3 linked regions of the Homo sapiens genome follow. The protein of the gene in region 1 purifies or fractionates together with the protein of each later gene. This does not show direct contact. Each region holds a gene or a part of one and is shown in the gene's direction. Other genes may lie near its edges. The genes, in order: DEPDC1, SAPCD2 and CILK1.

Region 1 (10,336 bases):
TCCTTTTAAGATTATTGAGATAAATGTATTTGAAAGGGGATACTAAATATAAGTCTTAGAAATTTGGTTAAAAAAATAAAATATTCTGATGGCTTTGTTTACTAGTCATATTCATATGTATAATCTATTTATGAAGAAAAAAAGTTAATATTCTTTCTTCTATTTAGCCTGCAAACCATTTTAGGTGTGCCATCCCTAGAAGAAGTCATAAATCCAAAACAAGTAATTCCCCAATATATAATGTACAACATGGCCAATACAAGTAAACGTGGAGTAGTTATACTACAAAACAAATCAGGTTGGTATTAATAAAATAATTGGACTTTTAAAAACTTGCCAACAAGGTTGCAGCTATAGTAGTGTAAAGAGAGACCCAAATATTGAAAGTAGAATACTTTCATGGAGCATCAGAGGGGCTATCATAAGTTCTTTAGTAATAACAGTGGAATAATTTTTAAGTGAGTATTATTCGTGCTAGTATAAGAAATATTTTGTCTGCTAAGATAAATTCATGCATGGTATTTAAAAAAATGACAAAGTTAAGCATCCAAAAGGTATACAAATATAAGAAAAGTTTTGATTAAGCACATTTTTGTTGAGGGCCTCCAACACGTCAGAGATTGTGCTAAAGATTAATGATAAGTAAGATAGAAATGGTCCATACTCTCATGAGGCTTACATGAGTAGTTATGTACAAATTAACAGGAGTCAAACATATATACAAAACTGTAATAACACAACAAAATAAGCTCAGACTTTCAAGATGAGGATTCTAAAGGGACTGGCTTTTTTGTTTTATATATTTATATAGTTGATTGATTTCAGATTTAGATACAAAAATCAGGGAAATAATTCAAGCTAGATAGATGTATTAGAAAACTTAGATTATGAGAAAGGTATCCATAAATCTCTCAAAATCGTAGCTGATGTTTTTATGATAAGTTTCTGTCTGTGGAATTAACTGACATATGCTACTTTGGTTTTCTTTTTATGGGCAAGAACTTTGAGTTTTTAATTGTAGGAGCAAAAGGTAAATGTTAAAACTGATGAGTTTGCTATGTGGCATATGTATGTGGCTGTAGACCAGTCCCTTCTTCCATTACCTAAAATAATATGGTTAACAGTATATTCCCTCATTTAAGATTTCTATTCTTTGTAACCCTGTGTAAAAAAAATGCTAGATTTCTATGGAACATATTTTATTTAGTGGCACTCGAAAGATTTTAAGCAAACTTCACTATAAAAGCAGCATAATAGTGAGATACAGTTCATTTCAATCTTAGGTCTCACCCAAATCAGTAATATTCAAATAGCATAGCAATAGGCAGAATAGAAACAAGGATGAAGAAAAGATAGTGGTAGTAGATAAAAATGAACGTGGAGTTTATATCTAAACACTCCCTCAAAATAATCCTCAATTTGGCAGTATTTAATTGTTATGTGTAATATGAATCAAACTCAGAATCCATAATTTTTTCAGACTTTTTCTATTTTAAAATATTGACTTGATCCTGTGTCTTATTAAACATATAATACTTTTTAATCCTGGTAATACACACATATACAAATGTAACATGTATGTGTATGTGTATATACATATATATAATTGCACGTAAGTGTGATATTTTAAAATATACTATCATAAAAAATGTATGGTTTACTTAGTAATATTTTTCTTTTTGTGTAGATGACCTCCCTCACTGGGTATTATCTGCCATGAAGTGCCTAGCAAATTGTAAGTTAAATATATGTGTGTGTGTGTGTGTGTGTGTGTGTGTGTGTGTGTGTGTTATATTGATAGTATTTAACAAGAACCAAGGAAATTTAATAAAGTCCTGATAAAATTAAAGTATATCATTTCTCTTTATTTATAAATGAAAGTCTAGTGGAATTTATTACATTATGGAGCCCTTAATTTTTTCTGTTTAGAAAGGTGGCGATTTTTTAATTCAAGCATATTATTTATGGTTTAGTTCACATATATTATAAAGTCATAGCCTAGAGGATCTCAAAGGATTTTTTAAGTGAAATCCACACTAATTGCCTCAGTGAGGCTCAGAGTTCAAATGGCTTGAACTCCTTGGTATTTCTATAGTGTAGAAGCATAGAATACTAGATATATTAATGTGACTTTATGTTATGAAAAAAAAAGATTATCTGTCATTGTATTAGTTTGTTCTCGTGCTGCTGTAAAGAAATACTTGAGACTGGGTAATTTATAAAGCAAAGAGGTTTAATTGGCTCATGGTTCCACAGGTTGTATAGGAAACATGGCTGAGGAGGCCTCAGGAAACTTACAACTTACAGTCATGGCAGAAGGTGGAGGGGAAGCAGGCATGTCTTACATGGCTGGAGCAGGAGGAAGGTTGTGTGCAGAGGTGGTACGCACTTTTAAACAACCAGATCTTGTGATAACTCACTCAGTATCACAAGAACAGCACCAAAGGGGAAATACACCCCCATGATTCAATCACCTCCCACCAGGCCCCACCTCCAACACCGGGGATTACCAATTTGGCATGAGATTTGGGTGAGGACAGATCCAAACCTTATCAGTCACTAATCCAGAAATTTTTTTAGCATTTAATTGATCAAGCTTTTCGTAGTGATCAGTGATAATTGATTTTTGTAACATAAAACCCTAGTATGAGTACAAAATCCTAATTGCTTTCAAAGTTAATTTTTTAAATGTACAAAGATATAAGCTAAATCATCAAAAGCTAAATTATGTTTTAATAGTTACAAGTATAATTTTCTAGTTCATACAAAATTAGCATTTTCTAAATGCTAATAGGGTTTTATTAATGTTCAGGGTAACTTTATATTCCTTTGTTGTCCACTGGGTGTCAATATGATAAAATGACATTGAATAAATAGCAATAAATTAAATATATTTACAGAAACATTTTATCAAATTAAGATTAAAATCTTTATTATGAACTTAAGACTTGAATTTGTCTTTCTACTTTCCAGGTATAGTTAGCTATTCCTCTCTTTCATTCCTTTGCTCATGGTTAGGAATTCAGATAGGCATACTGACAGGGATTTCTCTGACATCTGGTCTTCAGGGATTCTGTCTTCCTTCTCGTTTCAGTCTATGTAATACCTAAACGATACCAATTATATAACTTACTGGATTCCAAATTAGCAACAATGTATTTAGCCAGAGGCAGTGTTAAGACTTACTTTACTTGTTATTCGATCCCCCAGAGTAATTCTGTGAGATGTAGGAATTAGTAATCAGTATACCATCCCAATTTTTCCAACAGAGAAAGCCAAAGCTTAGAGTATCTTCTTTTAGTGCAAATGAGCTAGAGCTCAAACCTAGATTCTCTATAAATTCTATATTTTTAATATTTTTAATTCCTGTAAACATGTATTTTCTGTCTTAGAGAACTTTCTAATGATTATCAAATCTTTTATTCCACATACTATTTCTTATGTCCTTAGAAAAATATCTATTTTGCTCTGTTGTTAAGAGTGTGTGTGTGTGTGTGTGTGTGTGTGAATTGTTTTCTTTAATTCTTTTTCAGTGTGTGCTCACATTTGTGTGTCCATACAAAAGTTTGGAAACAGAGAAGTAAGAAATATTATTTGGACTTGGGAAGAGAAACATTTTAACTTGAAAGATAGTATAATGGCTCTAAAACCTAGATGCATACCACAGTCACTAAAGAGACTCTCCAGAGATTCTGTAGGTCAGGAATCTTTAAAAAATATATATATATATATATGCCTCCAGAAGATTACTATAGTGAAGATTCTCAGGTTAGTGTTTGGAAAACACTCAGTGAACCAGAAGCAAACATTTCTAGGTCAGTAAATTTCTGGCCCCGCCTTCATGGATTATGGTCTCCATAGAGGACTTTGTATTTTTAATAGGCACATTGGATGATTCTGTGATATAATCTATGAACCACACTTTAAATGTTGTTGTAGCTTTAAAAGTCCTGGGCCTTGTGCTTATTTTACACTGCTCTAACTTCTAATTCAAACTTTGCTACCAGAGTCTTTTTCATCTTGGGCAAGGTACTCTCAGCCTCAGTTTTCTTATCTATAAAATGAGATCAGATCTTATTTTTGAGGAAAACACAAATGAGTAGGTATGATTATTTCAATAGTTGTGTCAAGCTTAAGAAACAACAATGTAAAGATATTATTTAAATTCATTAAGGCTATGCTTCATGTCAGACAAAATATATTCATGAACATGTAAATTTACAAAAAGACAATTTGAAGGAATTATTTGTGTTGTCCAAATATTCTTTCCTTTACAAAATGAATTACAATAAAATCTTATTAAACTAAGCTTCCCTAATGCTTTTAAAATGATATTAAAATTTTGCTTTATGTATGATTTTTCAGGTATACAAATGTTAAACAAAATACTAGCAATTGACTGCTTCCAGTGGAAAGATAATGAGGAAGAATGAAATACACCCTTTAAATTTTTGAACTGTGGCAGAATTTGTTGTTAAACCTAGCTCCTTCATGAAATACAGATTTTATACTTTTTATGTTTAAAAATTGTATTTAAATTAAAATATACTTTACCTTTTTCTCTTGCCTTCTACTTCTTAGGGCCAAGAAGCAATGATATGAATAATCCAACTTATGTTGGATTTGAACGAGATGTATTCAGAACAATCGCAGATTATTTTCTAGATCTCCCTGAACCTCTACTTACTTTTGAATATTACGAATTATTTGTAAACATTTTGGGTATGTATAGATTTTACTGATTTTAGTTCATTTTGTTAAAGTTTTCAACTTTCTTATAATTTAGAAGATCTAAAACCATAGGTAAATATAAAGGTGGCAGCCTACAAATTATTTTAAAATTCAGTGAAATAAGGTTCCGAGGTTACTCATACTTCCGCCCAGCCAACTACCAATTCGGGACTTCCCTCAACCCCCTACCAGACTCAATAATTCACTACAATGATTCACAGAACTCAGAAAAGCACTTTAACTATGACTATTAGTTTATTATAAAAGCTAGACCTCAAGAATAGCCAAATGGAAGAGTTACACAGAGCACGGTATGAGGGTGGGGGTGGCACAGAGTTTCTCTACCCTTTCTGGTCATGCCGTGATCCCAGCACATCCATGTGTTCACTAACCTAGAAAACTCCCTCAGCCTGCATGTTTTAGAGTTTTAATTGAAGTTTAATTACCAAGGCATGACTGACCAAATCATTGGTCACTGTTGTCAATTGAACTCAATCTCTAGCCCCTTTCTCCTCCCACAAGGTTGTAGTTGGTGATGAAAATTCAAACCATGGCCGGCCCTCAGTTACCTTAGCATGAACTCAGATACGCTGAAATAGGCTTGTTATGAGTAACTAAAGACTTCTATCATTCAGGAAATTTCAAGGATTTTAGGAGCTCCATACCAGGTACCAAGGACAAAGATCAAATATATGTATTTTATTATACCACAATTATCTTATATTTATGAGGTTTCTAGTACTTGCAGACTGAGAACAGATTTTTTAAATGTATTCTGGCTCAATCCATTTAATTAGGCTGTTGAAATAATTTTTTAAAGTTATATTACAAATGGGAAAACCACTCATCTGTCTTGCACGTTTGTAACCGAATGTTGCATGTGTCCTATTTAAGTGGCTTCTGAATTAAGCAACTACTGTGTATACTATACTAACAATATATACTATAGTAATGCTTTATTTTTTAACTTTACTATTGTTTTTGTTTTATTTTTGTCCACTGTCATACAGTTGCATCTTAATTTTTGTTTCATTTCCTGGTAGTTGTTTGTGGCTACATCACAGTTTCAGATAGATCCAGTGGGATACATAAAATTCAAGATGATCCACAGTCTTCAAAATTCCTTCACTTAAACAATTTGAATTCCTTCAAATCAACTGAGTGCCTTCTTCTCAGTCTGCTTCATAGAGAAAAAAACAAAGAAGAATCAGATTCTACTGAGAGACTACAGATAAGCAATCCAGGATTTCAAGAAAGATGTGCTAAGAAAATGCAGCTAGTTAATTTAAGAAACAGAAGAGTGAGTGCTAATGACATAATGGGAGGAAGTTGTCATAATTTAATAGGGTTAAGTAATATGCATGATCTATCCTCTAACAGCAAACCAAGGTGCTGTTCTTTGGAAGGAATTGTAGATGTGCCAGGGAATTCAAGTAAAGAGGCATCCAGTGTCTTTCATCAATCTTTTCCGAACATAGAAGGACAAAATAATAAACTGTTTTTAGAGTCTAAGCCCAAACAGGAATTCCTGTTGAATCTTCATTCAGAGGAAAATATTCAAAAGCCATTCAGTGCTGGTTTTAAGAGAACCTCTACTTTGACTGTTCAAGACCAAGAGGAGTTGTGTAATGGGAAATGCAAGTCAAAACAGCTTTGTAGGTCTCAGAGTTTGCTTTTAAGAAGTAGTACAAGAAGGAATAGTTATATCAATACACCAGTGGCTGAAATTATCATGAAACCAAATGTTGGACAAGGCAGCACAAGTGTGCAAACAGCTATGGAAAGTGAACTCGGAGAGTCTAGTGCCACAATCAATAAAAGACTCTGCAAAAGTACAATAGAACTTTCAGAAAATTCTTTACTTCCAGCTTCTTCTATGTTGACTGGCACACAAAGTAAGGCTGTTGCTTTCAATGCATGCAATATTAACTTTGAGTGTTTACTAACTCTGTGTTTTGCTTACCTGGCTTTTCTTCCTTGAAGTTGCTTAATTTTTTTTCCTCCAAGAGGAATTATTTAAAAAGACTTTTGTCTGTGACATAACCAAGATTTATTCTGTTTACCTAAGGAACTTATTTTCTTTTTTGCAATTTCATTTATTCTGAGTCACTTTATTTGTAATAAGTGAAGAATTTTAATACTTAGAAATAAGTTGTAAAGAAAATAATGAGAATCTTACCATGCTTTAGAGGAACGTAATTTCTAGAAATAGTTAAAAGATGAAATACTAAGATATTATTTTACCTTCTTTATATAGCTGTATATACTGGTAGTATGAAAGCAACTAGTGTCATTGATGATTTTTGGGGGGGTATTTTTGTATTCTAGGCTTGCTGCAACCTCATTTAGAGAGGGTTGCCATCGATGCTCTACAGTTATGTTGTTTGTTACTTCCCCCACCAAATCGTAGAAAGCTTCAACTTTTAATGCGTATGATTTCCCGAATGAGTCAAAATGTTGATATGCCCAAACTTCATGATGCAATGGGTACGAGGTCACTGGTAAGTTGATTTCTTATAGAAAGAATAAGTCTGATTCATAAACCAAAATAACAAAACCAAACTACGTAAAAGTACTACTCAAGTGATGTCTTAGTCTTAAAGTGCTAGATTCTTAGGTTGGAAAGGCTCTTTAACCTTTCCTAGCAGCAGAATTTTGGTGTATTAATCTTTTGTGCACACTCTGTTATACTTTCACATGCTGATGTTAATCCTGGCTAAGGACTTTGCCTGCTCATTCATCCTGAATCACTTCATAGTGATTGACCAGTCAGACCACGTTATGTTGCCTTGTGCCAATTCTGTTTGGTGGATAAGGAAGAAGAAATGTAGGTACTGTTGAAAGCCTAAGGAGACTATAACTGTGGACGCAGAGAACTAATGGAACTTAATACAGTAAGTCAGTGTTTCAGAGAATATAGTAATGGAAAAGTAGGTCATCGTGGACAAGAAGTTGGGAAGCACTATTGCCAAACAGCCTTAGGCTCCTTGTGAAAATGAGGATAAGGGCATTTATATGCAGACAATTGATTGGAAATGAACTCTTGAAATAGTATCTTTAATCTCTTTCTTTTTTTTTAAGTCACCACTTCCTCAAAATGCAACTTCAATTTACAAGAGGTTCTTATAGCAAGGAATCCGGAGTTATGCTTTCTTCCACGCGTTATTAAAGATAGTTCTTTAACAATGACAGACCTAATATAAAGAAGAAGAATTATTCTTGAGTAATTATAGCACTATTAAAAAGCTAGGAAGTTTATAGAGGAAGATGTTTTCAGAGACATGACTGGGAAGGTGATAATTTTGGTTTTGCACTTTTAAGATTTGAAGTCATAGGACCTCCAAGAGAAATTGAAATTTGTCCAACAGAATGTTGGAAATATGAGCCAGGTGAAGAAAGATCAGGGGAGAATGCAAATTGATTTGGTCATTTACATAGGGATAGTACTTGAAGCTATGAGAGTAGATGAGCTCTACAAGGCTAAGAGTGTGAAGAAAGAGCAAAAGGCTGAGGTCTGAGCCATGGAAGGAGACAGGAAACCCCGAGTGATGTGTAGGAATAAAACTAAAAATGTATCAATTCTATAAATATTCTGATCATCTACTATGTGTGAAATATTTAAAACAATTCTGATTTCTAAGTATTTTAGAATGAGGGGTGTGTGTGTGTGTGTGTGTGTGTGTGTGTGGTACAGTTAGAGGGTTGCATAGATATAAGTGAAAGTAACGAGAGTAATAAGTGAGAGTAATCAATTTTATCCCAGGATTTGAAGATCCCATAAGATGGAATTGAAAAATGTGTGTTTTAAATTGCTGTCTAAAGACTGACAGAATAAACATTTTTAAAAACTATTTTCCAGCATTTCAAAAGCTAAATGGCATCAGCTTTGCAACCACTTATGAATAGAAGTGTTCTATATGTTACACATTCTCCTGGTTTGTGTTTTTCTGTGGGATTCATTTAATGTAATTAGTTATTGTTCTCTGACAATCTTTAAGCTTAAGCAACATATATATGTGGTATTAATAGAACCTATGGTGTTTACTGATAAAATTGTGACAAAATTGTAGAAAAACCAAAGCCTTTTATAATTCTTGGGAATTACATTAAGGATATACTTTTTTTTTTTTTTTCTGGTTACACAGGATCACGCTCTGTTTCCCAGGCTAGAGTACAGTGGTGTGATCATAGCTCACTGCACCCTGGAATTCCTGGGCTCAAAAAATCCTTCTGCCTCACTCTCCCAAGTAGCTGGAACCACAGTCATGCACCATCATGCCTGGCTAGTTTTTTATTTCTTCATAGGTATAGGGTTTCACTATGTTGCCTAGGCTGGCTTCGAACTCCTTGCCTCAAGTGAGCCTCTCACCTCAGCCTCCCAAAGTGCTTAGATTACAGGCATGAACCACCATGCTCAGCCATGGAAAAACTTTAAAAAGGATTTATGTATAATCAAATTCTTACATTTCTAACTGTATAAATCGTTGTCCTCATTTTTAAACTGAGGGCTGCTTACCACTTTTTCCCAATACTTCACATAATGCTACCTGGAAATTACCGATATTCTAGTTTGTATGCAACCTTAGCTTTTTAAATTCACATCTTTTAATATTTTTCTAGATGATACATACCTTTTCTCGATGTGTGTTATGCTGTGCTGAAGAAGTGGATCTTGATGAGCTTCTTGCTGGAAGATTAGTTTCTTTCTTAATGGATCATCATCAGGAAATTCTTCAAGTACCCTCTTACTTACAGACTGCAGTGGAAAAACATCTTGACTACTTAAAAAAGGGACATGTAAGTATTGTGAGTCTTAAAATTCTCTGCAATAGTCAGTTGCAAGTGGCAAACTCATCTCAAAATAGCTTAATCAAAAAGGGAGACTTTATCAGCTCCCATAAACAACCTCTAAAAGTCAGGAATGTAGACAGAATCTGGGACTCAAATAGCTATATGACTCTTTCCATCCCTCCATCTCTTATTTCTGTGTTGATCCTGTGTTTGACAATGGCTCCTTCACATGATGAGGAATGTGGCTAGTTGAAGTTCATGAGTTAGAGCCTTACATTTGCAATTCAAAGGAAAAAGAGCCATTCCTCCGTCTCCAATTTAAAAGCTCTGGATGTAGACTCTTAGCATAGTTGAGGTTAAATATGCATCGTTTAGGTTGTTAAGAGTGAGTAGGATGGAGATAGGGCCTTACTCTGATTGGTTCTACACAAAGGAGAATTTATTCTTCACAAAAGGTGAAGGTAGAGGGGTAAAATGGGAAGGAACTATTAAAAGAAGGAGAGAAGGAATACTGAGCAGCCAAAATAACAGACATCTACTGTATTCTGTCTTTGGCTGCCCAACACATGTTTATGTTTTTCCCATACATACCATTCTAATATTGCCCTGGCTTATAATTATAACTATCTCCTAGAATTTCTTTCTCTTATCAGAAGATGTTAGAAGCTCTGCCTATGTCCCTAGGCCTCAAAAAAAAAAAAAATACATGAAAACTAAAAATATTTCATTTCAGTAAATATGCTGATCATCTACTACCTGCACTGTCAGAACATTAAAGTCTTAAGATGAATTAGAATAACACTTAGATTGTTAT
Region 2 (10,271 bases), on another chromosome or scaffold:
GGCGGAGGTTTCAGTGAGCCGAGATCCTGCTGCTGCACTCCAGCCTGGGAGACAGAGTGAGACTTCTCAATAAAAATAAAAATAAAATAGTTTGCTTGTGAAAAATATGAAAGGGTAGCTTCTGCCAGTTGGGCACAAAACTTTCTCCTAGAAACTATATAGTAAGTCTAAAAGTAATATATGTGACTGCATAAAAGAATTCAAATGGTGGCCAGGTGCAGTGGCTCATGCCTGTAATCCTAACACCTTGGGATACCGAGACAGGATGATCGCTTGAGCCCAGGAGTTCAAGACCAGCTTGGGCAACATGGTGAAACCCCGTCTCCACTAAAAATACAAAAATCAGCCAGGTGTGGTGGCGTGTACCTGTAGTCCCAGCTACTTGGGAGGATGAGGCACGAGAATCACTTGAACCCGGGAGGCGGAGGTTACAGTGAGCCAAGATCGCACCACTGCACTCCAGCCTGGGTGACAGAGCGAAACTCTGTCTCAAAAAAAAAAAAAAAAAAAAAACCGGGCGCAGTGGCTCACTTCTGTAATCCCAGCACTTTGGGAGGCCAAGGCGGGCGGATCACCTGAGGTCTGGGGTTTGAGACCAGCCTGACTAACATGGAGAAACCCTGTCTCTACTAAAAATAGATACAAATATTAAATATAAATATAAATATATAAGCATGGTGTTGCATGCTTATAATCCCAGCTACTCCAGAGGCTGAGGCAGGAGAATCGCTTGAACCTGGGAGGCGGAGGTTGCCATGAGCCAAGATCGCGCCATTGCACTCCAGCCTGGGCAACAAGGGCGAAGCTCTGTCTCAAAAAACAAACAAACAAACCGAAAAAGAAAAACAAATCATGCTGTTACAGGAAAGAGGTTCCAGACCTCAAGAGAGGGTTCTTGGATCTTGCGCAAGAAAGAATTCAGGGCAAGCCCATACAGTAAAGCAAAAGCAAGTTATCAGGAAAGTAAAGGAATAAAGAATGGTTTCTCTACAGACAGAGCAGCCCTGAGGGCTGCTGGTTGCCCATTGTTATGTTTTTTTGGATGACATGCTAAACAAGGAGTGGATAATTCATCCCTCCCCTTTGTAGACCATATAGGGGAACTTCCTGACGTTGCAGTGGCATCTGTAAACCGTCATGGTGCTGGTGGGAGTGTAGCGGCAAGGACAACCAGAGGTCACTGTCGTTGCCATCTTGGTTTTGGTGGGTTTTGGCCGGCTTCTTTATCGGAACCTCTTTTATCAGCAAGGTCTTTGTGACCTGTATCTTGTGCCGACCTCCTGTGTCATCCTGACTTGGAATCCTTTAACCATCCAGAAATGCAGCTCAGTAGGCCCCAGCCTTATTTTACCCAGCTCCCATTCAAGATGGAGTTGCTCTGGTTCACACACCTCTGACAGTGATCTAGGACCCAAAATGAAAACTAACATCTCCCTCATGCTGCCCCGTGGACCCCTCAGGCAGTTGTGTTTCCTTGCAGTTGGGTTCTGCCCCCACCTCCACACACATGCCCTCACTGAGTTTGGGAGGGGGCTTCACCCCTGGGGCAAGGCCCACATGCACTCTTCTGGACCTGCATGGAGTTGCTTTTCGGGCCTGCCTCAGGGTCTCTGCACTTCCTGTTCCTCCCTCCTGGACCGCTTGTCCCCAGAGAAACGTGTGGCTGGGGACGCATTTGGTCAGGCCTCAGCTCCCCAGGCCACGCCCACTCGGTGAGCACCTTCCCATCCTCCGTGCCAGGCTGCCTTTCTGCATTCTTGGCTACCTGACTCCCCTGTGAGAAGCGAACCCCACAAAGGCGGGGAGTTGCTGTTTTTGTTTTGTTTTGTTTTTTGTTTTGAGACCGTGTCTCATTCTGTCGCCCAGGCTGGAGTGCAGTGGTGCAATCTCGGCTCACTGTAACCTCCGCCTCCCGGGTTCAAGTGATTCTCCTGCCTCAGCCTCCTGAGTAGCTGGGATTACAGGCGCCCGCCACCACACACAGCTAATTTTTTGTATTTTTAGTAGCGATGGTTGGCCAGGCTGGTCTTGAACTCCTGACCCCATGATTTGCCCGCCTCGGCCTCCCAAAGTGTTGGGATTACAGGCATGAGCCACCGTGCCCAGCCCAGGCAGGGCATTGTTTAGGCCAGTGGTCTGCCCCCATCACCTCAGGTAAATGCAGCACACAGTAGGCACTCAATCAATGTTTGTTGATTGAACAAACGAGTGTTGAACCCCAGCCCACACCGTGACTGGGCAACAGCAAATGTTCAGGGAGTACCTGCTGCATGAATGAATTAATGAATGGCCTGTTCTGCTCCAGTGGTTTGTGGTGGTTGAACATCGTTTAGGTGAACGTTGGAGTTGGAGGGGAGGCTCGCGGAATCCGGTGAGCAGAGCAGGCTTCCCGCCCCAGGCCAGAGTCCATGGGAACCCTTATCACCCCTGCAGGGCTGGGCAGCAGAGGAGGCACATGTCTCTTGGAGGCAGGTGTCAGGACATGAACTGTTGGCCCTGTAGGTCAGGGTGATTCCAAATCCCACCTCAAGGTGTGGGTTGGGCTGTAATAGAAGATTTGGAAAATCAAGGTTTGTACAGCCAGAGGCACTTGCGGCACCAGAAGGGGAGGAGCGACCCTGCCCAGACCGACAGAGCCTACGGATGGGTGGGAGTGCTGGCAAGGCTGAGGTGGGCAGCAACCTCCTGGACCACCTTGTGGCCAGGCAGTTGTCTTCACAAGAGGCCCAGGGGAGCAAGGCCCTAAGGCTCAGAGGCCAGGAGTGCAGACGGGGAGCCCTGGGAGGCTCAGGGGCTGGGTGGCTGTTGCCAGTTCTTCACTTGGTGCCCACTGCTGGGGATACATCAGGGGACAGAGGGGCCGGTCTTCCTGCCACCTCTGCCCAGAGTGGTCCAGGCTTACACAGTGAGAACACAATTACAGCTAAGATGGGGCCTCCAAAAGTACAGGGACAGCATGGGACCCCCAGGGGTGACACAGCACTAAAACCTGAAGGATTGGGAAACTATCAGGCCAGCCGGAAAGTGGAGTGAAGGAGGAAGTGGTCAGAGCTCAGGACAGGAAGGACACAGGACCACATCTTAGCTCCACGCCCAAAGCCAGGCACAGCCTCCAGTCTTTTTTTTTTTTTTTGAGACGGAGTCTCGCTCTGTCGCCCAGGCTGGAGTGCAGTGGTGCCATCTCGGCTCACTGCAAGCTCCGCCTCCTGGATTCACGCCATTCTCCTGCCTCAGCCTCCCGAATAGATGGGACTACAGACGCCCGCCACCACGCCCGGCTCATTTTTTGTGTGTGTGTGTGTTTTTAGTAGAGACGGGGTTTCACCATGTTAGCCAGGATGGTCTCGATCTCCAGACCTCGTGATCCTCCCGCCTTGGCCTCCCAAAGTGCTGGGATTACAGGCATGAGCCACCGTGCCCAGCCTTTTTTTTTTTTTTTTTTTGAGATGGAGTTTTGCTCTTCTTGACCAGGCTAGAGTGCAATGGCGCGATCTTGGCTCACCGCAACCTCCACCTCCGGGGTTCAAGCTATTCTCCTGCCTCAGCCTCCCGAGTAGCTGGGATTACAGGCATGGGCCACCATGCCCGGCTAATTTCGTATTTTTAGTAGAGACGGGATTTCTCCATGTTGGTCAGGCTGGTCTCGAACTCCTGACCTCAGGTGATCCGCCCGCCTTGGCCTCCCAAAGTGCTGGGATTACAGGCGTGAGCCACCGTGCCCGGCCTCCAGTCTTTTTCATACCTTCCTCCAATACCCAGCCAGGGGCCACAGAGAAGCCCACAGACCAAGGGCCAGCTGGGGCCGCCTCCCCCAAGGCTCTGGATGGTATGAAAAGCCCTTGTTTCATCTGCACGGTGGGTTCAGTTCCATGCGGGGCCATGGCTGGCCTGGCCTGGACACTGCTGGCCACGCTGTCCTGAGCTGCAGCAGCCTTGCTCACTGCTGGCCACCGACTCCACATCCACACTGGCCTCCCCTGCCATACCACTGAGCTGTTCCCAGCCCTTCCCCATCCCTTAGGCCTCAGCCTGGCTTGGTGCCCACTCAAGGATGGTGTTTCCCATATGATTTCACTGGATACGGCTCCCCAGTGCCATTCACAGAGCACCCACTGTGGGCCAGGCCAATGCCAGGCCTAGAAGGAGCCCTGTCCTGCTTGCAAATAGCCAGGGCCCCCTGGGCCAGGAGAAAGCTGTCCCCTGTGTTTTATCTAACTAGGCTTCAGGGGGAAGGGGACTGGGGCCAGAGCAGAGTTCTGAAGGATGTAGTGCGGTCAGCCTGGAGCAGAGGGGAAGGGCCTTCCTGGTAGAAGAGCCACCAGGCACAGGGGCCTGGAAGTGAGGGAGTGCAGGGACCCCAGGCCTGGCACTGGCGGTGAGGGGTGTGCTGGAAGCAGGGTAGGTGTGGGGATGGGGGGGCGGGGGCTTGCGTGTTGTGCTGGTTTGTTTTGTTTTGTTTTGTTTTTGAGACAAGATCTCGCTCTGTCACCCAGGATGGAGAGCAGTGGCTCAATCACAGCTCACTGCAGCCTCAACCTCTTGGGTTCAAGGGATCCTCCCACCTCAGCCTCCCAAATACCTGGGACCACAGGCATGCACCACCACGCCTGGCTAATTTTTTAAACTTTTTGTAGAAATAGGGTTGCCTTATGTTGCCCAGGCTGGTCTTGAACTCCCCAGCTCAAGTGATCCTCCCGCCTCGGCCTCGTGCTGGGTTTTTGAGCAGACCAGCCATTAAAGGGGAAGCTGGCTTACAGGACCAAGCTCTGATGGGCTGCTCCAGGCTCAGAGCTTCTTATGTCCTTCCAGCATTCCCTACGATGAAGGAGTCCCACTTAGAGTGAGTGACCCAGAAGAGAAGTGGACCCAGGATACTCCCTGGCCTGGGAAGATGCCTCTACAGCTTGAGACACAGGCACCAGTGGCTCAGGCCTGAGGACAGAGACCCAGGTAGGTATGCCAGCTGAGGCCTGCCCAGGAGGGAGGGTGGGAGACCCGCAGAGGGCCAAGGCAAGTCTCGGATTGGGGGCCTGTCTGGGGAGGGTGTTTGCACCCTGAACACCTCCCTGGAACCTAGAGGGTACTACTGGCCAGCCCTGAGATGGGCTCCCAGGGCTAGAACCCAGGCTAAGGCCTGGTCTCACCTCCCATGTGGACAGACCAAATGAAGACAGAGTGACCAGATCCCAGCTGGAAACACAGCAGAGGCAGGGGGACAGGGCTGCGGGAGCCAGGAGAGCAGCTGGAGGAGGTGTCCAGCCAGGGGAAGGAGGAGAGGAGAGCAAGAGGCAGAGGGAGCTGGTCACTAGATGGGGATCTGGGGACACAGGAGAAAGTGGCTTTGTTCTGCAGCAGGCAGGCCAGGCCAGACTGTCCCGAGGGACCAGAGGAGGAGCCAGCAGCAGTGGGGACAGAAAGGCCTCTGTGAGTGGGAAGCGCCCAGCTGGCTGGAGCCTACGATCCTCTTGGGGCCCTCCTGGTGGAAGAGAAGGGGGCCGCAGGGTCACCTGTGCTTGCGGCCAGGGAACTAGAGGGGAAAAGTGGGATCTTTGGAGGGGGTGCCCCCCCCCATTCTTACCCCACGAGGCTACCTGGAGACAGGTTTTTTTGTAGGGTGCCAGGCCCCGCCCCTTGGAGAGGTGGCCGGGGCAGCCAGCCACAGCTGGATCCGAGAAAGCGCCTGGCCGCGGCAGGAGGTTTGGTGGGGCTGGGGCGGGGCAGAAAGGAAGGTCTGCGAGGCCAGAGTGGAGCAGGAGCTGGGGGATCCGGTTCCGCCTGCCCAGGGCCTCCGCGCGCCTCCCAGGGCCACTCGGCAAGAAAAAAAAAAAAAAAATCAAACCTCCTCTCAGCCTATCAGAGAGCAGATGGGACGGGCTCGGCCAATGGCCGCGGCGCATGTTAATGAGGGCTGACGCCGCGAGGAGGGCCCCATTCAAAAGTAGTCGCTATTGTCGCCGTGGGCTGAGCTCGCCGGGCCGGCCCCTCCGTGGGGCCGCGCTGGGACGCACGCGGGTGGACGAGGGGACCGATCCCGGGCGCCCATGGCCGGGGCCGCCATGGCCGAGCGGGGCCGCGTGCCTCCCCCCGCACCCGCGCCCAGCACGGAGGGGCTGCCGCGCGCCTTCCTGCAGAGCCTGCGCACCCTGTTCGACATCCTGGACGACCGGCGGCGCGGCTGCGTGCACCTGCGCGAGATCGAGTCCCGCTGGCAGGGCACCGACGCGCGGGAGCTGCCCCGCGGGGTGCTGGAGGGCTTGCGCCAGGTGGCCCCGGCCAGCGGCTACCTGACCTTCGAGCGCTTCGTGGCCGGCCTGCGCACCTCCCTGCTGAGCGCCGACGGCGGCCCCCGGGACCCCACGCGCGCCCCGGCCCGGCCCGGGGATCAGCCGCCGCCGCCGCCGCAGCGCCTGGTGTTCGCTCCGGCCGACGAGCCGCGGACGGTCCTGGAGAGGAAGCCCCTGCCCCTGGGCGTGCGCGCCCCTCTGGCCGGTCCCAGCGCCGCCGCCCGCAGCCCGGAGCAGCTGTGCGCCCCGGCTGAGGCGGCGCCCTGCCCCGCGGAGCCCGAGCGGTCCCAGAGCGCGGCGCTGGAACCGAGCTCCAGCGCGGACGCAGGTGAGTTCCGGACGGCCCCCGGGCACCCTCGTAGCTCTCCCGGGCCCGGGCCAGAAACCGCAGTCCCACAGCTGCTGCCCGTGCATTTCCCACAAGGGACGGGACCGGGGAGCGGCTCTTCGTGGACTCCGGATCCTGGAGGGCGCCTCGGCGGGTCTGGAGGGAAAGGGCTTCATGCTTGTCGCGGTGAGCCCAGGGGCTTGCTTAGGGAGGCAAGCCAGACCCTCTCCTGCCACAGCATAAGGCCACCAGGGCCGGGGGGTGGCAGGTGACTCAGAAAACCCACCGGGAGCCCAACCTGTACCAAGCCTGAGCTTGGGCTCTCCATCTCCAATACCCTTTCCGCACCTGGGGACACCTGGGCCCTCAGCCTCCTGTCTGTGGCTGCTCAGGCAGAAGTGCTTCCTTCTCAAAGAAAGGGTCCCCCTTCTCAGTGTGACAGCTTAGCCAGGGGGGCTGGGCCCACTGACCCCACTGAGGCCTAGGCAGGCGGGGGCTGCTGCTGGTGGCCCAAGAGGACCTGGCCCTGTTGCCAAGATGGGCAGGGGCGTGGGTGGATCTCCTGCACCCCAGTGGGGCTGTACTATGGCAGATGCCATGGAGGGACATAGGCCGTAGTCCCTGGGGATGGCTGGCACACTCCTCTCCTGCCTTCCGGTCCAGTTGGCAGTGATGGGAGATTGCTGAATGGTCCCCTGTCTCCCCCAACCCAGTGCCTGCCTTGGGAACAGGACCTGTATTATGGCTGGGGTTGGGGGGCCAAGCTCCCAGAGGGGCCCCAGGCCCCACAGCCCATTCGGCCTGTGCACCCGTTCTGCCAGGGGAGGCCTGCCCACCGGTGGCTCCTGCCGGTCCCTGTGCTGCCTGCTGCTCTGCCACCCTCCCTGTACTGCTCCCCCACCTCAGCCATATTCTCCAGCCCTACAGCTGGTGTTTGGAGCCACGGCGGCCCTGGCCTCCCTGGTGATCTGATCCAGCAGCCACACCAGGCTGGGGGACCCCTAGTTCTATGGTGAGGGAACCTTCAGAGGGTATCTGGCTCCAAATGCAGGGTCAGCGTCATCCATGTGGCCATGCAGTTTGAAATCAGCCATGGGATTGCACGCTGTGGCCGGGCCTGGGGTTTGGAGGCCTAAGCCTGTGGTCCACCCCTGCTCTGCTCTGATGCCCCATGCGGCACTGGCTCACGTACCACATCTCCCTGAAGGCCACATGGCTAGGGCTGTAGCTGTCACCCTCTCACAGGCAAACGGAGGGCCAGACAAATGGCGTGACATATTTGATTGACACAGCTGGCTTTTGGGGTGTCAAATCTGGAGCTCTGAGGTCACCCCAACTCCCAGAAAGCCTGCCAACACACACAGCCTTCCAAGCCCCCAGCCCAGATGTTCAGGGCCTCTTTCCTTGTTCCCACCTGGGACTGCGTGTTTGCTCCAGGCTGGCTGTGGCCCTGGAGGTGTGGCCTGCTGGCTCAGGGCCCTGGAGGGGCAGAGCCACCACCCCCACCTAGAGGCCATCTAGCTCATCACCCAGCACGCTGCTATCTGGGGACCCAGGAGCTGCTCTATGGACTCAACTGTACAGACCGGGCCCAGGTGTCCTGGGACTTCCTCTATGGCCTCCCTCTGTCTGTACCCTCTCTGCTCCCACCTCCTGAAGGGCTGTGTGCTCTTCCACTGTCTTGCCCCAGAGCTGCCAGCCGCTCAGCACCGCAGGCTGGAGTGCGAATTCGGGCCTGCCTGGAGCCAGGCTCTCTGCCGTGCCTACCTGGGCCCAATTCTTGCATCACTCCCTGACTCCTGTGGCCAGGTGCCAGGGGCATGGCCTCTAAGGATGTGCCTGGTGCTGGGGCTACAGCTGGAGGCCGAAGGAGGATGCCTTCCTCCACACCTGTACCCACTTCTGTAGCCTGGGGAGGTGCACCTACTCCCTCACCAGGAAGCTGGGCCGGAGTGGCACCAACGCGATACTCTTGGCTGCCCCCAGGGGGAGCCCTCAAACAAACTTCAGAGCAGGGGTCTGTGAGCACCAGGACGTGCCTGACTTGTCAGTTGGGTGCACCGCCTGGCGTATCACACACGCGGGACTTTTTTTTTTTTTTTTTTTTTTTTTTTTGAGATGGAGTCTTGCTCTGTCGCCCAGGCTGGAGTGCAGTGGCGCGAATCTCAGCTCACTGCAACCTCCGCCTCCTGGGTTCAAGCGATCCTCCTGCTTCAGCCTCCCGAGTAGCTGGGATTACAGGTGCATGCCACCACGCCCTGCTAATTTTTGTATTTTTAGTAGAGACAGGGTTTCACCATGTTGGCTAGGCTGGTCTTGAACTCCTGACCTCAACTGATCCCCCCCCGCCCCAGCTTCCCAAAGTGCTGGGATTACAGGTGTGAGCCACCGTGCCCGGCAAGGGATCTTTTTTTTTTTTGAGACAAAGTTTTGCTGTGTTGCCCAGCCTGGAGTGCAGTGGCGCAATCTGGGCTCAGTGGAACCTCTGCCTCCCAGGCTCAAGCAATCCTCCTGCCTCAGGCTCCTGAGTAGCCGGGACCACAGGTGCATGCCACTGCACCAGGCTAATTTTTGTGTTTCTAATAGAAATGGGGTATTGCCGGCCGGGCACAGTGGCTCACGCCTGTAATTCCAGCACTTTGGGAGGCTGAGGTGGGTGGATCACCTGAGGTCAGGAGTTCAGGACCAGCCTGGTCAACATGGTGAAACCTCATCTCTACTAAAAAATACAAAAAGTAGCTGGGCATGGTAGTGGGTGTCTGTAATCCCAGCTACTCGGGAGGCTGAGACCGGAGAATCACTTGAACCTGGGAGGCGGAGGTTGCAGTGAGCCAAGATCATACCATTGCACTCCAGCCTGGGCAACAGGAACAAAACAACGTCTCAAGAAAAAAAGGAAGAAATGGGGTTTTGCCATGTTGCCCAGGCTGGTCTCAAACTCCTGAGCTCAAGCGATCCACCCGCCTTGGTCCCCAAAAGTGCTGGGATTACAGGCGTGAGCCACTGTGCCCGGCCATGCGGGACTAACTTTCTATCAGAGTCACCATCCTGGGAAAAGTTAGGTTTCCGTCATTCACACCCACATCTCCTGCTGCCTTGCAGGACCCCGTGCAGATGGGAGAGGCGTAGTCAGGACCAGAACCCCCCCGCCCACTCCTCCCTTACCCAGCTGCCTTGGAGACCCAGGGTGTGCCTGCCATGTTCTGGGCACTGGGTGTGCAGAAGAGAGCTGGATAAGGCCTCTGGCCCCAGAGAGCTCACGGACCGATGAGGGGGCAGGGTGTGTGTTTGAGCAAACATGCGGGCTTGGCGGCACAGCCCTCCCCAAGCCAGTGTGAGGAGCTGGAAAGGGGAGAGGGACCAAACTCCAGCCTGGCACAGAGGCTACACGTGGGCCATGCCAGGCTGGTGCCCGAGACCTCGAGGGTGGGCTGAGATGTGGAGGCCGCTGCACCTCAGCAGAGCCTGGCCAGGCAGGTCTGGAGGTGAGCCAGGCCCATGCCTCTCCATAACAGGTGCAGTGGCGTGCAGGGCCCTGGAGGCGGACTCAGGGGATGCCCGGCGGGCTCCCCGTGCCCGAGGGGAACGTCGGAGGCACACCATCGCCAGCGGCGTGGACTGCGGCCTGGTGAGCAGGGACTGGGGCTCTGTGGGGCTCT
Region 3 (10,336 bases), on another chromosome or scaffold:
AAAGCTTTACAAATATAACACATTTAATCCTGCAGAACAACCCTATTAGGTAGATGCTATTATTTCCCCATTTTACAGATAAGAAAACTAAGGCACAGGAAGGATAAGTACTTTTCAGCCAGTGAGTAACAGAATTATGATTTGAAATCAGGCAACTTGGCTGGTCTGCACACCTACCCGCTATGTGGCATTGCCGCTCATAAGGAAATAGTAATGTCATGTTAAAATAGACATGAAAAGCACCTGTATATGACATAAGGATCTTATACTTTTAATTACCAGGAATAGATCTCATGTGTATAAGGCTAATAACAGCCCATTGTTACATTATTCAGTACTTAACAGAGGGCTAGATAGTCTACAGATATATTCACAAATTTGTTATATTGACTTCTACTTGAAGTCAATATAACAAATACAGCATATGTCAACTGACAGATACAGTTTTTCATCAGTCATTTTTATAGTCTGTTAGCAATTAATTTTCTTTCCCAGCCATTTTCCCTTGCTTGTTTTGAGCCTGAAGTAGGGCCCATAAAAAGAGAAGCTGCTTAAAGGGATATGTGGGGAATCGGAATCTTCCTTCCCCTCATTTCATTAGTGTGCATGTCCTCTGTGGAAGTATATGATTAAAGAGGAGTTAGCAGTGAGGGAGAGGATAAAGCTTGGCTGATGGGAGGAGTGGCCAGTGTTTACAGGAGCATGACTACAGTGGAAACAAAGAACGAGGTCTGGAGTGTGAGCACGATACTTGCATCTGAGTATGAATTGATGATAGGAAGAACTGAGCAGAGAGAAGACACAAGTTTGTTGTGGTGGGTGTTCTAGATGATGCCAGAGGGAGTTGCCATAGTGGGTAGGGGCTGCAGAACAAAGGACCCATTATAACGGAACTGCCACATAAGTTTGGAAATAATAATTACCCCAACTAAATGAGAAAAAGGGAGTCTATGAGGGGAAATAGCATTAATCTAGACTTGAGAGGATCAAAACAACAAATCAAGATTTAGCTATATGGGCCGGGCACAGTGGCTCACGCCTGTAATCCTAGCACTTTGGGAGGCTGAGACGGGTGAATCACTTGAGGCCAGGAGTTGGAGACCAGCTTGACCAGCATGGCAAAATCCTGTCTCTACTAAAAATACAAAAATTAGCCGGGCATGGTGGTGCAGGCCTGTAATCCCAGCTACTTGGGAGCCTGAGGCATGAGAATTGCTTGAACCCGGGAGGTGGAGGTTGCATTGAGCTAAGATGGTGCCACTTCACTCCAGCCTGGGCGACCAGCAAGACTCTGTCTTACAAAAAAAAAAAAAAAAGATTTAGCTATATGGATTGAAAGGGAGAGTAGAGCTGGACACTATAATAGCTATGACACATTTCTTGGTGGAATTGGGAGTAATTCATCTACCGCCCCCTGCCACCATGATTCAGTTTTCCCATCTGTGGAGTAAGAAAATGATGCTTGCCATTCCTTTTTTTCACTGGAATGTTTTGAACACTCTGAGTTTTTAGGAAGACAAACCATGGTCTCACAATTCATCTATTTTCAGAGGTCACAGGTGCGTTGACCAAAGATCACTGTAATCACTGCTTGTATCCTTACACATTCTTAAGCCAGTTCCAAAATGGAAACACACAATCAGGCCTTCTGCAAGCTGGAGGGTGCTCTGAAGAACAGAGGGTCCAAACACAATGACTCAGTTATGCTAAGTCTTAGAGATGTCACCCACTGTGGTGGGCATGAATAAATCTTTAATTAGGCTGATCATAAGCATCTAAATGTGTCCATATCAGAAATCTTTTCATTCATTTTAAAGGCCATTCTTGACTGATACTGAATGCTCTTTGCATTTGTTGAGTTGACAACCTCAAGTTTGGTTCTTATGTATAATTTTGGTTTATTTTACTATTAAGTTCACTAGGATATTTCAAGGAATTGTATGAGGAAGGCCATTAGGTGTGTACCAGTACAATGGCAGGATAAAGAATGAGCAGTGGAATATATATTCATAAATATTTCACAATATACATACAAACCCGTGTATGCATGTGCTATAAAATAGCAAACTTGCTGTGCCTGTCTCTGGTTTAACCCATGTCAAACTTTTTTGATCTCATCAATGCCTTGGATTGTGGAAAATAAAAGCAACCCCGTGGTGGGAAGGAAGTACTTCCTCCTCTCACTTATGCCCTCTTGAATGTATCTGATCACTTCTATACCTTCATCCCCTTCTGTATTTACTGGGTTCTAGGCTCTGTAATTACATTCACTTTGTCCATCTATGCCAGCTACTTCTCCTACAGATCCGCCATTATGCCATAGTATAATACTATCCATTTGGAACTTGACCCAGTATTAAGTACTGTTGTCTTTAGAATGATGAACAGAGAGGATTGTCCTATTACTAAAATATTGTTCCTTTCCATGATAATGGCAATTAGTGTATTTTCACATATAACCACATCACAATCACCCTCCCTTTGCTCTAGGGCAGTGACAGTCTTTGGAAAACAACCTTGACTAATAGATTTAGTCCTACTAGAGTTCCTGCCTTCATTCATTCATTCAACTAATACAACTCCCTCTGTCACAAGGACAACCAGCTCTGAGCCCTCATTGTCCCCTGCACTACTGGGTCATTGTTCTCTCTCAGTTCTCAGTGCTGTCTCATGGGTTTCCTCCCTCCCATCCTCCTCACAGCTCTGGTTTGCTCTCTAGTTGACCCTGGTGCTTGGCTCAGGTAGATGTGTTAACATTAAGCTGTTTAATGTTCCCTACAGACGAAAGTCCTTTGTTCAATCAGCAAGAGTATATTATGAGACCACAGTGCTCCTGCCACTGTGCCAGGCATTCATAAGAAATATAAATGTGGCCTCTGCCCTTAAAGTGCTTCTGTCTAATTCATAAAAAATGGTTAGCCAGGTGCGGTGGCTTACACCTGTAATCCCAGCACTTTGGGAGGCTGAGGTGGGTGGATCATGAGGTCAGGGGATCGAGACCACCCTGGCTAATATGGTGAAACCCCGCCTCTACTAAAAATACAAAAAATTAGCAGGGTGTGGTGGCAGGCGCCTGTAGTCCTAGCTACTCAGGAGGCTGAGGCAGGAGAATGGCGTGAACCCAGGAGGCAGAGCTGGCAGTGAGCTGAGATTGTGCCACTGCACTCTAGCCTGGGCAACAGAGCAAGACTCCGTCTCAAAAAAAAAAAAAATGGTTAACATACCTGAAGTTGATAGAGCTCAACTGGAGTTAGAGGGGAGGGCCTATTATGTCCATGAGGGCAAGAGTCATGTCCATTGCATTGTTTCTGAATCCTTAGAACCTAATCTGTTGCCTGGCATGGAGCAGATGCTCAGTGAAAATGTGTTGGTAGAATGAATGAATGAATGAATGAAGGCTACCATGTTAGAATGGCATAATGGAAGAAGCGAAACTCAAAACAGGTGTTGGAGGATGGCAAAAGTTGGGATTGATGTAGACAAAAAGGAGTAAAGGGCACATTATTAATGGAAATAAGTACAGTTACATATCACTTGATGACTGGATATGTTCTGAGAAATGTGTTGTTAGACAATTTTGTTGTTGTGCAAACATCATAGAGTACACTTACTTAGACACACCTAGATGGTATAGCCTATTACATAGCTGGACTATATGGTATAGCCTGTTGTTCCTAGACTGTAAGCCTCTACAGCATGTTACTGTACTGAATACTATAGGCAATTGTAACACAATGGTAAGTATTTGTGTATCTAAACATAGAAAAGGTACAGTAAAAATATAGTATAAAAAATTTTTTTAAAAATGGTACACCTGTATAGGGCACTTACTGTGAATGGAGCTTGCAGGAAATGGCTCTGGGTGAATCAGTGAGTGAGTATGAAGGTCTAGGACACTTTATAAACACTGTACACCAAGGATACACTAAATTTTTAAAATTTCTTTCTTCAATAATTAATCTTAGCTTGCTGAAACTTTTTATTTCATAAACTTATACTTTTTTTAACTTTTTGACTCTTTTATAATAACATTTGGCTTAACACATATGGCTATACAAAAATATTTTCTTTATATCCCTATTCTATAAGCTTTTACTGTTCTTAAATTATTATTATTACTTTTTTAACTTTTTTGCTAAAAACTAAGACACAAATACACACATTAGCCTAGGCCTACACAGGGTTAGGATCATGAGTATCATTGCCTTCCACCTCCACATCTTGTCCCACTGGAAGGTTTTGAGGTGCAATAATACGCAGGGAGCTGTCATCTCCCATGATAACAAAGCCTTCTAGGTACCTCCTGAAGGACCTGCCTCAGGCTGTTTTACAGTTAACTTTTTTTTTTTTTTTAGTAAGTAGAAGGAGTACAATTCTAAAATAATGATTAAAAGTATAGTATAGTGAATACTAGATAAGGATTTTTCAGCTTCATTATAATAAGACCACCATCATATATGCAGTCCATCATTAATTGAAACTTCGTTATGCAGTGCATGACTGTACAGTGAACTTACAAAGAATGAGGAGTTGCACCTGATTGGAGCACACTTTACATGTATTGATAAGTGTTGGAAAATAAGTTTCTCTCTTTAGGTAGAGTGAAAGGAGTTCAGCCCTGTTTAATATAAAAAGGAGTCATGGATGGTTTTTGTGGGTGAATGAGAGAGTGACAAGGGAAAGATAGTGTTTAAGTGGTCAGGATTATAGGAGAGAAGCTGGAGCAAGGAAGGTCTGCAAGAAAGTGGCAATGCAGGCATAGGCAGTGAGAAAGTAGAAAGAGACAGATATGAGATTTACCCCCCCAACCCCCCCGCGCCGCTCCAAAACGAAGTCTTGCTTTGTTGCCTGGGCTGGAGTGCAGTGGTGTGATCTCAGCTCACTGCAACCTCCACCTCGCAGGTTCAAGCAATTCTCCCACCTCAGCCTCCCGAGTAGCTGGAATTACAGGCATGTGCCACCACGCCCGGCTAATTTTTAAAATATTTTTAGTAGAGATGGTGTTTCACCATATTGGCCAGGCTGGTCTCGAACTCCTGACCTTCAAGTGATCCGCCCGCCTCGGCCTCCCAAAGTGTTGGGATTACAGGCGTGAGCCACCGCGCCTAGCTGATATGAGATGTTTTGATAGAAAATACGACACAATCTCATAACTGGGTAAGGATGGATCCAACATAACTGCAAGGTACCTAGAAATCTTATCCAAAGGTTAGGAAGGGGAGATGATTTGGGAGAGGACAAAAGTGGTTTTGGATAAGTTAACATAGGGATGATAGTGACATCCAGTTGCTGTCCAAATAGAGATTTATGTCTTCAGAAGGGTAGAGAAGGCACATTAGAAATGTAGACTTGAGCGTTGTCAACATACAGGTTGTCAAGGAATCGTGTAGATCTTCAGTGATGGCTATTAATTTCTCCCATAATGTGCTAGTTAGAATCCAGCTTTCACAACATTGATACAGATTGAGTATCTCTTACTTGAAATGCTTGGGTCCAGCAGTGTTTCTGAATTTGGATTTTTTCAGATTTTGGAATATTTACATTATATTTTACCAGTTGAACATCCCTAACCCAAAAATCCGAAATCCAAAATGCTGCAGTAAGCAATTTCTTTATGTGTCAGGTTGGTGCTCAAAAAGTTTCAGGTTTTGGAGCATCTCAGATTTTGAATTTTCAGAGTAGGGAATACTCAGCCTGTAATGATAGCAATGATAATGTGTAACAAATAATAGCATCAGCAGCAGCTGAGTTGTATTTCCAGTATTGGTGTCCCATTGAGATTTGGAGCCACATTAAATGATGTCTAGGTTGGTGATACTCTCAGGAAGTGGGAGGTTTGGGGTTTTCAGAGACATATATTGCAATTCACTGGGCGTTTGAGTGAGCTTGGAAGATTGCCATGTTGACTATCTCCTGCCTGTACCTCCAGAGCTCTGCTATAGCTGAGACAGGCTTCCTACGTAATGAGTTATCTTTGCCTTTCATGTGAGCTGCAAATGTACCATTGTACTTCCTCACTAGGCAAAGTAATAAGTACTTAACATTTAAACATATGTTGCAACATACACCACAATCTCAGATATGAGTAGGTCATATTCATAAATTATTTCTTAAACAAAAATTATAATTGTGTTTCTGCTGTGGTATAAACTCTCAATTCCCATCAGACAGTTATCTGGGCCGGGCATGGTGGCTCACACTTATAATCCCAATACTTTGGGAGGCTGAGGCAGGAGGATAGCTTGAAGCCAAGAGTTCAAGACAAGCCTGGGCAACAGAGCAAGACCCTATCTTTACAAAAACAAAAAAAAAAAAAACAAAAAAACTAGCCAGGCACCATGGTTTGTGCCAGTAGTCCCAGCTACTTGGAAGGCTGAGACAGGAGGATCACTTGAGCCCAGACTGCAGCGAACTATGATTGTGCCACTGCACTCCAACCTAGGCAATAGAATGAGATGCCGTCAGTGATATTTTTCCCTTGAGTGACAGTTTATTTTTGCAAAGTTATCTCAGCCTATAATCCAGTTTGATATTTTAAAAGAAATTTTCTCTCTAGTTAAAAAAAATTATGAAGAACACCTTTGAATGATTTGCAAAGGGAAATGAATGTAGTAATCCTATGAGAAGTTCGAAGGACTCTACATTATCTGTGGGATGAATGCATAAAGCCTTTGGTGCCATGCCAGACTACTTTTTAAATTATAACTATTTTGCAGAGAGCAATACAATTGCAAAGAATAATACGAAGCAAACTTGCATTTGGATTTCTTCTCCTCTACTGTCTCTATAGGCTTCTTTCATCGAGACTTAAAGCCTGAGAACCTCCTCTGCATGGGACCAGAACTTGTGAAAATTGCAGACTTTGGTTTGGCCCGAGAAATACGATCAAAACCTCCATATACAGATTATGTATCTACCAGATGGTGAATACCATTTTTCTCAAAATTATTTAATTGCACTTCTTTAAAAAGATATCATTATGCTAAGGATAATATTAAAGTCACAAATGTTAACTTTTCACTAAGAGAAACAGTGCAGTCTGAAACATATATTTATAGATATGTTGGTAATGTACAAGGTTAAAAATCTTGTGTTCTAAATCATGTTAAAAGAAAACCTATTATGCTTTTCTATAATGTAAATAAAATTTTATATATAGGCCTTCCTGAGGACAGCTTAACAAAAGAATTATGTAAAATATTCTGCAAAGACCTGTCTGAGAACCATCTAATTGCTATTGTGAAAACTTTGAGACACTGGGAATTTGATTTAAGCAGTTTGCCATGACCAAGTAGTCTACACACAAGTTGTAGGTTTTTTCCTCCCTCTTCCTTTCTCTCTTAGTTTTTCCCTTCCACTTTCTCTTTTCTCTCTTTTTTCCTAATTCTTACTTTCTCTGTGTTTCTCAAAGATGCCATAGAGAAGTCTCCTGTAGAGAAATGCTCAGTAGAAAATATTGTGAACTAGAGAAGCACTACTTGTCAACAGCAGCCCACGGCAGTTGCCAAGTTCTCACAATTCCATTACACCACAGTGAACTAGAGAGAAAATAGGAACATATACACCCCCTCACTGAGAACTGATTGTTATTTAATTTAATGTCTGAGTGGTGGAAGCAATAGCTAGCAGTTAACCTTTGTTCCTCCAGGTACAGGGCTCCAGAAGTACTCCTGAGGTCTACCAACTACAGCTCCCCCATTGACGTCTGGGCGGTGGGCTGCATCATGGCAGAAGTTTACACCCTCAGGCCACTCTTCCCTGGAGCCAGTGAAATTGACACAATATTCAAAATTTGCCAAGTGCTGGGGACACCAAAAAAGGTAATGATACAAAACAAAGGCCAGTGGGCCAAAGCCAACAGCTTCCCATGCTTCCTCCGCTCAGCCCTGTTCAGCACTGGCATGATTGAGCACCTGCCCATTCTAGGCTCTTTCTCTTGACCTCAGTCATTCTCCACTGCCCACGTTCTCAGATACGGTCGGCTTCTCTTCCTCCTCCTGTTCTTAAGTATGACATCTGTCATGGCTCCTTCTGCCTTCCTCTCTGTATCATCTCACCTCCCTTGCAGAACTTCTCAGTTCTCATTGCTACAACTCCTACGCCTGTTCAGAAGTCTCCTGAATGTAATCCTTAGCCGCTGCCTCCCTCCATTATTACTACACTCACATGTTTACAACGCTCTATGGGATTTTCTCCTGACTCCCTCACCATCACCTCAAACTCATCATTGCCTTTTGTTTAACACCCTACTAGCTTCCTTCTTTCATTCTCCATTTTCATTTGTGGTCTGATCATAATCCCAGAGCCCCCACCTTGAGGCTGAATTTCAGCTTTACCTTCTGTCTTTCTCTTGCTCCCCTTTCCCTTCATCTAAGCGGTTGGTGGGTAAATCCTGTTGAATATTGCCACATGGCTCTTGTTCCTTCAAGTCCACTGCTGCCATTACAGACTGGACCACAGTCACCCCCCTGTGTCTAATGTCATCTTCCCCATCTTTCTGCCTTGAAGTATTTTCACTCTGGCTTCTTGTTCAGTCTGTGGCCAGATTCAGCTTCCTAAAGAACAGCTCTGGTACTGACTTCCCCTCATAAAAGTATTGGTTGACTCCCCATTGCCCAGCCTCATAACTCCTATTCCTATCGCTCACTTCATACCTATACACCTAACAGCTGCATGCCCTGAAATTTCCCTGCTTCTGTGCTCTGCACATAACACCCTCTGCCTGAGTGATATCTGTCACATGGCCGTCAGTAATCCCCCTCCTCACTGTTTCTCTAATCTCCTCCCCATCTTCAGCTGTGTCCTATGTTATTAATATTATTATTTGCGTACATAGTTGTTTCCTAGACCATAAGCTCACTCAGGACAAGGATTTGCTGTATGTTTATTTTCCCAGGTCCCAGCACCATTGCTGGTGCAAACTAGATCCTCAAAAAAATTTTTTAATCATTTGAATGAATTATTAATGCCACCTCTTCAAGAAAGTTTCCTGAGTCCAATGCTGGAATCTTTCTCCTCTGCATATCTGTACCTGCACATCTCTTGCAGCTTTTGTCAGTTTTTACTCTGCATTATACCATTTTTAAATAAATGCTCTTTTCTCTTTTAAGAACAGTAATACTCTTAAGCGCAGGATTTATATTGGATCATTTTTGGATCTCCAACAACACTAAGCATATAGTAGGCATTCCAGAACTGTCAAGTGAATGAACGATAAAAGCTATATGTATTGCCACTTGGCTTTAAAAAGGAGTGGAGGAACAATTACCTTAGGCTGTATGTTATAAAATAGTAGAGTGTTAGAACTAGAAGGAACCTTAAAGACCATTTCTTTAGCATTTTCCATCATTCCCTCCAGCATTTAGTGTCCCATAGAAATGATGCATGAAAAAGTGGAAAGCTTGAGACTGGGTGAAACACCTTTCTTTACTGCTGGTTTTCTCCACATGTATACTTTCAATCACCAAGTTGAAGATACTGTAGGTAGAGTTTCACAAATTTATTTGTCCAGGAACAAAATGTTTTGTTTTATTTTGTTTTCCCCAAAAGAATATCTCATTGGCAGTTTTCAGAACCTCTGTCTCATGGAACACAGTTGGGGAAATATTAATTTGTTTCAATCCCAAAATCTCAAGAGAATCTCTTATGTAAAGATAATTAAGTTGGCAAATCCAGTGTCTTTTCCACTATTCCCCCAGATTTCATGGTCTTGGTGGTCTCTCTATTAATCTAAATCTATGTCTCATTCCATACAGTGCCACAGTAGTGAATGTGGGTGGTTAATGAATGTGGGTGGGTAATGACATGGTTGCCTTTCCATTTGGGGCACACATGCCAGAATACAAACTTATATCACAGCAATTGGCTGAGCAAGATTTTCTATCTTTTCCTTCTTTCAGACTGACTGGCCTGAAGGCTATCAACTTTCAAGTGCAATGAACTTCCGTTGGCCACAGTGTGTACCCAATAACTTAAAGACCTTGATTCCCAATGCTAGCAGTGAAGCAGTCCAGCTCCTGAGAGACATGCTTCAGTGGGATCCCAAGAAACGACCAACAGCTAGTCAGGTTTTCTTCCATTTTCTTGTTATAACGTTCATATCTAACTCTGAATAATTTCTATGAATTGCACAGGAAATATTTAGTATTTAGTATTATGGGTGAGAAATAGTACAGAATACCACTAATGGTGTACTATATAAGGTATGAGAACTTAAAATAGTTTGAAACTTACTGGGTATAAAGTAGTTACAATGTAAACAATATAGTTGCTTTGAAAATTGGCATGTAATTCACATGATATATCACCATTTATATGGAAATGGAAATAAACATAT

The links.
Region 2: the proteins of DEPDC1 (region 1) and SAPCD2 purify together in Homo sapiens (affinity purification with mass spectrometry; 2 studies listed by BioGRID and IntAct, with this or other methods). This does not show direct contact.
Region 3: the proteins of DEPDC1 (region 1) and CILK1 purify together in Homo sapiens (affinity purification with mass spectrometry; 2 studies listed by BioGRID and IntAct, with this or other methods). This does not show direct contact.

The regions. Positions count from the first base shown.
Region 1 is NC_000001.11:68,478,336-68,488,671, reverse strand, and holds part of DEPDC1 (DEP domain-containing protein 1A), read left to right. Parts: intron 1-167; coding exon 168-298; intron 299-1,687; coding exon 1,688-1,735; intron 1,736-4,581; coding exon 4,582-4,722; intron 4,723-4,967; exon of another isoform or gene 4,968-5,774; coding exon 5,775-6,626; intron 6,627-7,059; coding exon 7,060-7,232; intron 7,233-9,351; coding exon 9,352-9,528; exon of another isoform or gene 9,529-9,543; intron 9,544-10,336. UniProt on the Homo sapiens protein: May be involved in transcriptional regulation as a transcriptional corepressor.
Region 2 is NC_000009.12:137,066,231-137,076,501, reverse strand, and holds the start of SAPCD2 (suppressor APC domain-containing protein 2), read left to right. Parts: upstream 1-5,944; 5' UTR 5,945-6,041; coding exon 6,042-6,612; intron 6,613-6,708; coding exon of another isoform or gene 6,709-6,798; intron 6,799-10,127; coding exon 10,128-10,240; intron 10,241-10,271. UniProt on the Homo sapiens protein: Plays a role in planar mitotic spindle orientation in retinal progenitor cells (RPCs) and promotes the production of symmetric terminal divisions. Negatively regulates the mitotic apical cortex localization of GPSM2.
Region 3 is NC_000006.12:53,015,814-53,026,149, reverse strand, and holds part of CILK1 (serine/threonine-protein kinase ICK), read left to right. Parts: intron 1-6,790; coding exon 6,791-6,923; intron 6,924-7,648; coding exon 7,649-7,820; intron 7,821-9,899; coding exon 9,900-10,067; intron 10,068-10,336.